Linked DNA regions of Homo sapiens. The protein of the gene in region 1 interacts with the protein of each later gene in a pairwise test. Each region holds a gene or a part of one and is shown in the gene's direction. Other genes may lie near its edges.

Region 1 (4,055 bases):
ATGTTATTTACAAATGATGTAAGGTTACATAAACTGTAGGTATAGTGTGATTCAATTTTATAAAACAAATCCCATCGATATCTTCTACAATACATCAAAATGTTAGCAATGATTATTTCTGGCTGGTGGCATTATGAGGACCTCTATTTTCTTCTTTATAATTCATTTTCTGAATTCTTTTCAATAGCATCTAGTATTTTTCTACTTAGAAAAAACTAGAAAGCTTTTTTGCGTTGGGAGAGTAAAGCCAGTCACTGCGCTCTACTACTCCACAGCATGTTTTTTTGTTTGTTTGTTTTGGTTTGGTTTTATTTCTGTTGTTGTTTGGGTTTTTGTTTGTTTGCTTTGCTTTTTTGAGATGGAGTCTCACTCTGTCACCCAGGCTGGAGTGCAGTGGTATGATCTCGGCTCATTGCAACCTCCGCCTCCTGGGTCCAAGTGATTCTCCTGCCTCAGCTTCCCGTGTAGCTGGGACTACAGGTGCGCACCACCACATCCAGCTAATTTTTGTATTTTTAGTAGAGACAAGGTTTAACCGCGTTGGCCAGGCTGTTTTCGAACTCCTGACCTCAGGTGATCCACCCGCCTCGGCCTCCCAAAGTGCTGGGATTACAGGCGTGAGCCACTGCACACGGCCTTCACAGCACTTTTGAGAGGCTTAAATGACATAGTGCATGGCACTGCCATGTGTGGTAAAAAGGAGAGCCCTGTCCTTATGCTGGCCTACTCAGTTCCACCTTGTAGGACCTGCTCTTTGAACTCAGAGTCTGAACCTACAGTACCCATGTTTGCCCTTGAGCCTTGGGACCAACCTTAGGGGTGGGGTAGGGCTGAGGGCCTGCCAGAGAATCAAGCTGAGTAGAAAAGTCTATGGAGCTGCAGGCCATGCAGGGCTGCTTGGGCACTGGCTCACCAGGGCTGTGTTTATGCAGCTTACTCCCTGCTGGGCTTCAGGGCTGCTAGCCAGGGACACCTAATTGGTGGGACAGAGCCCCCTCCTCTCACCACCCTCAAAGCTGGAATGTTCTGAATTCCTTCTTGGGCCAAATCCCCCTCCCCACAAGGCCTCTCCTGGGTTCACAGAGGTCACCACACAAAAGCCCAGCTGGAGTGGAGTTTTTGACAGAAAAAAAAAAACACACACAGAAAACCCACCAAACCTTTTTTTTTTTTTTTCTAAAGTGCCTCAATCTTTCCCAGCCTCCAGGGGTTTAATTCTGATCTGTAATAAGTCTCTGACCCACGGCTCAGATTTGCAGATGGATTTTGCAAAGCTGTGGTTAACGATTAGAAATCCTTTATCACCTCAGCCCGTGGCCCCTTGTACTTCGCTCCCCTCCCTCAGGATCCCTTTCTCCCTCTCCAGGGGCATCTCCCCCTCCAAGGCTCTGCAAAGAACTGCCCTGTAAGTATCTCCATCCTGATATAGTTGCTGCCTTTTAAATTCACCGAGGTGGGCACTCTTCCTTCCTAGTCACTATCCATTCACCCCATGGTGGAGCCAGGCTGGGCCACCTTGGGTTTCTGAGTGAAGGGTATGGGAGGGGAAACTCCGGTGGCATTTGGGTTGGTGGTATTTGTTCCCTCAAAGCTATCACAAAGGTTCAAATCTTTAAAACTTCAGGACCAGAGAAAGCACTCTCCAAATCAGATATTTTCTGGTTTGGGGGCTTAAAAGGACTGGGATAAAAATTGGAGGAAGGGAGCCACAGTTTACCCCTCTGCCTAAGTGTAGGGGACTGAGGAGTGGCAGAAGGGGCACTCCCTCACAGCCAGCTCCAGTGCCCTCCTTGGCATGAAGGCTCAGGGAGGTAGCAGAAGGTGGGTTCCTAAGTGAAGTCATAAAGTTTCCCCATGAGGTCCTTCAAGGACTCTCCCTCACTGGTCTGCAAGTCTGTCATTAGAAATTCCTTCTTTCGACTGAGGTATTACTCTCTTCAAGTGCCCTCTTTGAAAATGCAGTTGGAACCAAAACATTCACAGCACTTATGGCCGGGGAGATCGTAGGCGATTTTTGTTTTCTAAATTCTGCCTTTCTGTGTTTTCCAGTGTTCTAAAGTGAGAATGCTTTACTTTGATGATCAGGACAAAAATCAACTTCTTTTTCAAACAATAAGAAAATCTCTCAATCCAGTTGCAATTCTCTGAACTGCCATCAATCAATTGATGTAGAAGGAAAGATGAACTGCTCTAAGGACAAACTTTCAAGAAAGTAGGGCCTCAAGGGAATGGCTTTGCCACCTACTAGTGCCCTTGGCAGCTGGAAGTGAGTTTCAGAGAAGGGGGCAAGTGTCTCAGATTCTTATGAGGGGCAGTGAGATCAAGGGATATAGAAATGAGGCTGACTGACAGAAGAGGGCTGTGGTGGCCATCATCACCCCCAGAAGGCCACATCAGTTCCTTCCTTGAGCCTGGGAACCCCAAGTGCCCTGTCCCATGTAGTCTTAGGAGGGTACTGCCAAAGAAAGAGTACCATGCACAAGACTCTTGGAGCAAGAGATGGGGAGAATAGCAGGGAAAGTACCTAGGTGAGAAGGGGTTAAGTCAGGAGCTGCGGTCAATCTTGACCCTCCTAATCCTCTCCTGCAGCTCCAATCTCCCCACTAGGGAAGATTAAGTAAGGATCCTAAGTTAAACTTTCTTGCCCAGTCCTTGGGCCATGGAGTATGTTGGCCCTATGCCCAGAAGACAAATTCAGCTGACAAGGCCTAGAGTCCTCTGTACCTCCAACGCAGCCAGTACTTGACTTCTAGGAGGATCCCTCAAAGAGAGGCTTCTATTAAAACTGGCTGCTTCTAATAACAGCTCTTCAGTCTTCTATATTTGTCAAAGTGGCTTCCTGTCCCCATGCCTTTATTTGAGACTAAAAATCTTGGAGATGACAAACTAGGGCCTAGAGAAGCTATAGGACTTCCTCAGCAGGTTCTAGGCAGAACTGACACAACAAGAAGCTAGATCTTTTGATTCTAACACCAGGACCCTGTCTGCCCTCACCTCTACTGCTCATCAGACAAACAAAAACCTGGCTGAATCCAGCCTGTCTCACCACCCAACCATTCGCCATTTAGCTGGTCTTCCTAACTCTGGTGGAAAGCTGAACCCCCCCTCCATGGGGCCATTTCTATCACTTGAATAAGCTCCAATAACTTGTTCTTCCTCCTGCCTGGGCATGCTGCTATGCCAAGTCAGACTCTAGAGATTCCAAGCCTCAGTAATGGCATTTTCTTGACTCTGCCCTCTCCCTCACCCCAAAACACTTGCCTACTTACTACTACTTAGGACAGGCTCTGGGGAGAGGCTTTCCTCTTGGGGACACTGTTGATTCCCTTGGGAAACTCAAGCTTGACTCTTCAGCTGCCATCCCAGGAAGGCTGAAGCAGGAGCTGCTCCTCTGGGAAGCAGTAGGTCTTCCCCTTGAAAACCTCAAGGTATCTCACCAATTCTCACTGAAAGCTCAGATACAAATAGGAGGAAGAAAGGAAAAGTATTGAACCCAGCCTGGGTGAGGAGCAGGGAGGGCCCAAGGATGGTTTCAAGGCAAGGATGCATCCTCAAAGATGATTTGCAATTATCCAAGCAAATGGTGGATGGTAGAATAGCATGCTTACGGGCTTGGAGACAGAGAGAAAGGCAGTCAGAGAAATTCAAGTGCTTAGGTTTGGCTGGATCATATGTGTATGTATAGGAGCATAAAGCATGAGGTTGGAGGTTAATGGTGTGAGATGAGGCTGTGAAGAAAAGCCGGGGTGAAATAATGGAGGGCTTTCTTGGTTTCCTGGGCTAGCAAGTTTGAACTTCATCCTGAAATACTTAAGAGCTCTGAAGATTTTTTTTTTTTTTTTTTTTTGAGACAAAGTTTTGCTCTATCGCTCAGGCTGGAGTGCAGTGGCACAATCTCGGCTCACTGCAACCTCCACCTCCCGGTTCCAGCGATTCTCCTGCCTCAGCCTCCCTAGTAGCTGGGATTACAGGCACATGCCACCACGCCCAACTAATTTTTGTATTTTTCGTAGAGACGGGGTTTCACTATGTTGGCCAGGCTGGTCTCAAACTCC
Region 2 (3,500 bases), on another chromosome or scaffold:
AACCTGACCAAAAAGAGGGTGACACTGCTCATTTTGCTTGTCTGGGCCATCGCCATTTTTATGGGGGCGGTCCCCACACTGGGCTGGAATTGCCTCTGCAACATCTCTGCCTGCTCTTCCCTGGCCCCCATTTACAGCAGGAGTTACCTTGTTTTCTGGACAGTGTCCAACCTCATGGCCTTCCTCATCATGGTTGTGGTGTACCTGCGGATCTACGTGTACGTCAAGAGGAAAACCAACGTCTTGTCTCCGCATACAAGTGGGTCCATCAGCCGCCGGAGGACACCCATGAAGCTAATGAAGACGGTGATGACTGTCTTAGGTAGGTAAGAGGACCCAAGCAAGCCATCATTCCCATTCATTCAGCAAATCTTTACGGAGCATCTGTGGTGTACCAGGCACTTACTAGGCAGTAAGAATGCAGCAGTGAACAAGAACGGACATAAATCGCCACCCACCTGGAGCTTACACTCTAATAAGGAAAGATAAAATAAGTATTCTAATGGGGGTAAACAAATTAAGTGAAATAAGATGAGTCTCCTGTGGAAAAATCAATCAGGGAAGGAAGGAAAAATAAAGCAGGGAAGGGAGCTGGAGAGTGCTAAGCTAAGCAGGTATCGTTTGCACTTTAAAAAAGTGTTGTGAGGGATGCCTGGAAGATGACTTTTGAGCAGAGGTGTGAAGGCAGTCAGGGAGTGAACCATACTGGTGTCTGGGGAAGGGTGTTCCAGGTGGGAGAAGCGGTAAGCACAGGAGCCCTGACCAGCCAGGAAGCCACTATGGCTGCATGGATCGAGCAGAGGGAGTAGGAGAAGATGAGGTCAGGGAGCTGGTGGGGTAGGGGATGGGCTACTCAGATAATGTAGGGTCATGTGGTTATAAGGACTTCAGCTTTTCATTTTTTTTTCTTTTTTCTTTTTTTGCCGGAGCCTCACTCACTCTGTCACCCAGGCTGGAGTGCAGTGGTGCCGTCTCAGCTCACTGCAACCTCCACCTCCCGAGTTCAAGCAATTCTCCTGCCTCAGCGTCCCAAGTTGCTGGGATTACAGGCAGCGCACCACCATGCCCAGCTAATTTTTGTATTTTTAGTAGAGATGGGGTTTCTCCATGTTGGCTGGGCCAGTCTCAAGTGAGATGAGAAGCTATGGGAAGGTTTTAAACAGGGGAGTGACATGATCTGACTTATATTTTAATGGTATCTCTCTGGCTACTGTTTTAAGACACTGCTGTAATGAGGCAATAGCAAAAACAGGAAAATTGTTTAACCTATTTATGCCTAGTGTTCCATTATTGGAATGCTAAGCTTGTGGGAGTTATTTATATCCTACTGCTCAAGGTCATTGACAAGTTCTGATTTTTCACAAAAGAAATTTGCAACCCCTGGCATAAATGGGTTAATAGAGTATTTCAGTACTCGGGAGAGATCACCATGGCCAGATGGTAGTTGAAGGTGATGGTCAGATTCTGTTTTTTTGTTTTTTGTTTTTTTTTTTTTGAGACAGGACCTGGCTCTGTCATCTAGGCTATAGTGCAGTGGTGCAATCTCAGCTCACTGCAACCTCCACCTCCTGGCCTCAAGTGATCCTTCTACCTCAGCCTCCCAAGTAGCTGGGATTACAGGCCTGTGCCACCAGGCCCGGCTAATTTTTGTAATTTTTTTAGAGACAGGGTTTCACCATGTTGCCCAGGCTACTCTCGAACTCCTGAGCTGAAGCCATCCGCCTGCCTCGGCCTCCCACAGTACTGGGATTACAGGTGTGAGCCACTGCACCTGGCCAGATTCCAGATATTTTTTAAAGGATTTACTGATGGGTAAGGTAGAGGGGAAGATGAGAGGTGGAGGAGAAGGTGGGGAATGTCATTAACCAAGATGAGGAAGACTGAAGAGGAGGAGGTTTTGGGGGAAGATTTGGTTTTGGACAAGCTAAATTTAGGAACCTATTAGACATCCAAGGGGTGTGGCAATTTTATTGAGTGGACAGTTGGATGTTTGACTCAGGAATTCAAGATTTAGGTCTGGGCTGGAGATGTACATTTGAGAGTCCTGGGGGGAAACTGGTATTTTAAATCACAGGACTGCGTGAGCTCACCATGAACGTGAATGTGGATATGAAGGAGAGGAGGACCAAGGATGGAGCCGTAGGGCAGGCCCTCCAGTGTAAGGAGGTCAGGAGGTAAGGGGCAGCCAGCAAAGGAGCCCTAGAAGGGATGGAAAACCCAGGAGACTCTGGGGAACTAGAAGAAAGAGAAGAAGGCAATCGAGGAGAGGAAGCATTAGCAGTGTTGGTACCCCTGAGAGGTGGTGTAAGACCAGGTGTTGCTGGCCTTACCAAAGTGGTGGACTTGTGCTGATCTTGAGATCATCACATTTGGTATAGCCAAGAGCCTGATTGGAGTAAAATTGAGAAAGAAAGGAAGAGCCTGGGCAACATGGTGAAACCCCATCTCTATGAAAAATACTAAAATTAGCTGGCCATGGTGGTGCATACCTGTAGTCCCAGCTACTTGGGTGGCTGAGGTGGGAGAACCGCTTGAACCCGGGAGGTTGAGGTTGAGTGAGCTGTGATCACACCACGGCACTCCAGCCTGAACAACAGAGTAAGAGCCTGTCTTAAGAAACAAAAACAAAACCAAAAAAAAAAAAAGGGAGGAGAGAAAGGTTGTGAGCCCTGTACCAAGAAGACATGTGGTTTCGTAGAATTTTCCCTTTGTTTTATTTTCTCTGAAGTAGGTGGCCTATTGCCCCACCTCCCCAGTTCTAATTCTGGGTTACAGGTAGAATTTGTAATGTGTGGGCAGACAAGAACTTTTGTGGTTTCACAGAACTTGTCTTGTAAGGCAGAGAGGCCGTTTCTCACTGTGTGTGTGGCTGCAGCAATGGGGACTGTTGCTGAGAGAGATTCAGGAGTACATTTCTGTCTACTCCTTATGAGAAGGAATTATAAAATGAATTATCAGGTAGCAGTTCATAGTGGAGGATACAGTATGTGTGGTGTGGTATAGAAACCCTCACAATGCCTCTAGGTCCTGAAACTGCTAGTAAGATTTGGGGGTCAGCAGACACAGAGTGTGATTGTTAAAATAATTTCAAACTGAGGATTTATTTAACAAATATTTATATAGTGCTTAATATGTGCCAAGCATTGTCCTAAGTGTTTTTACAAACATTAACTTATTTAATTCTCATGGAAACCCTGTGAGATAGGTGCTACTATTATACCCATTTACCAGATGGAGAAACTGAGAGTTTAAGCAGTGTGTCCAGTCACTCAGCTGTTAACCAAGACTCACTGCGCAGCTGGCCTCTAGAGTTCACATATTTACCACCATACTCTGTGGCTACTTGTGATTTATCTGGACTTTTTACGCTCATCTTTTTGTCCTGTCTTCTGCTTTGACACCGTTGACACATTGATAAGAAAATGGACAAGAACAAGAAAAAGAGGGTTCACATTAATCGGCATTTCCCCTCGAGCTGGAGAAGATATTGATGTTTTTGA

Evidence for each region. The genes of interacting proteins can lie anywhere in the genome.
Region 2: the proteins of CLDN2 (region 1) and LPAR3 interact in binary tests that used the Homo sapiens proteins (3 or more experiments, as listed by UniProt).

The regions. Positions count from the first base shown.
Region 1 is NC_000023.11:106,919,147-106,923,201, forward strand, and holds the start of CLDN2 (claudin-2), read left to right. Parts: upstream 1-1,255; 5' UTR 1,256-1,405; intron 1,406-4,055. UniProt on the Homo sapiens protein: Forms paracellular channels: polymerizes in tight junction strands with cation- and water-selective channels through the strands, conveying epithelial permeability in a process known as paracellular tight junction permeability.
Region 2 is NC_000001.11:84,862,207-84,865,706, reverse strand, and holds part of LPAR3 (lysophosphatidic acid receptor 3), read left to right. Parts: coding exon 1-322; intron 323-3,500. UniProt on the Homo sapiens protein: Receptor for lysophosphatidic acid (LPA), a mediator of diverse cellular activities. May play a role in the development of ovarian cancer. Seems to be coupled to the G(i)/G(o) and G(q) families of heteromeric G proteins.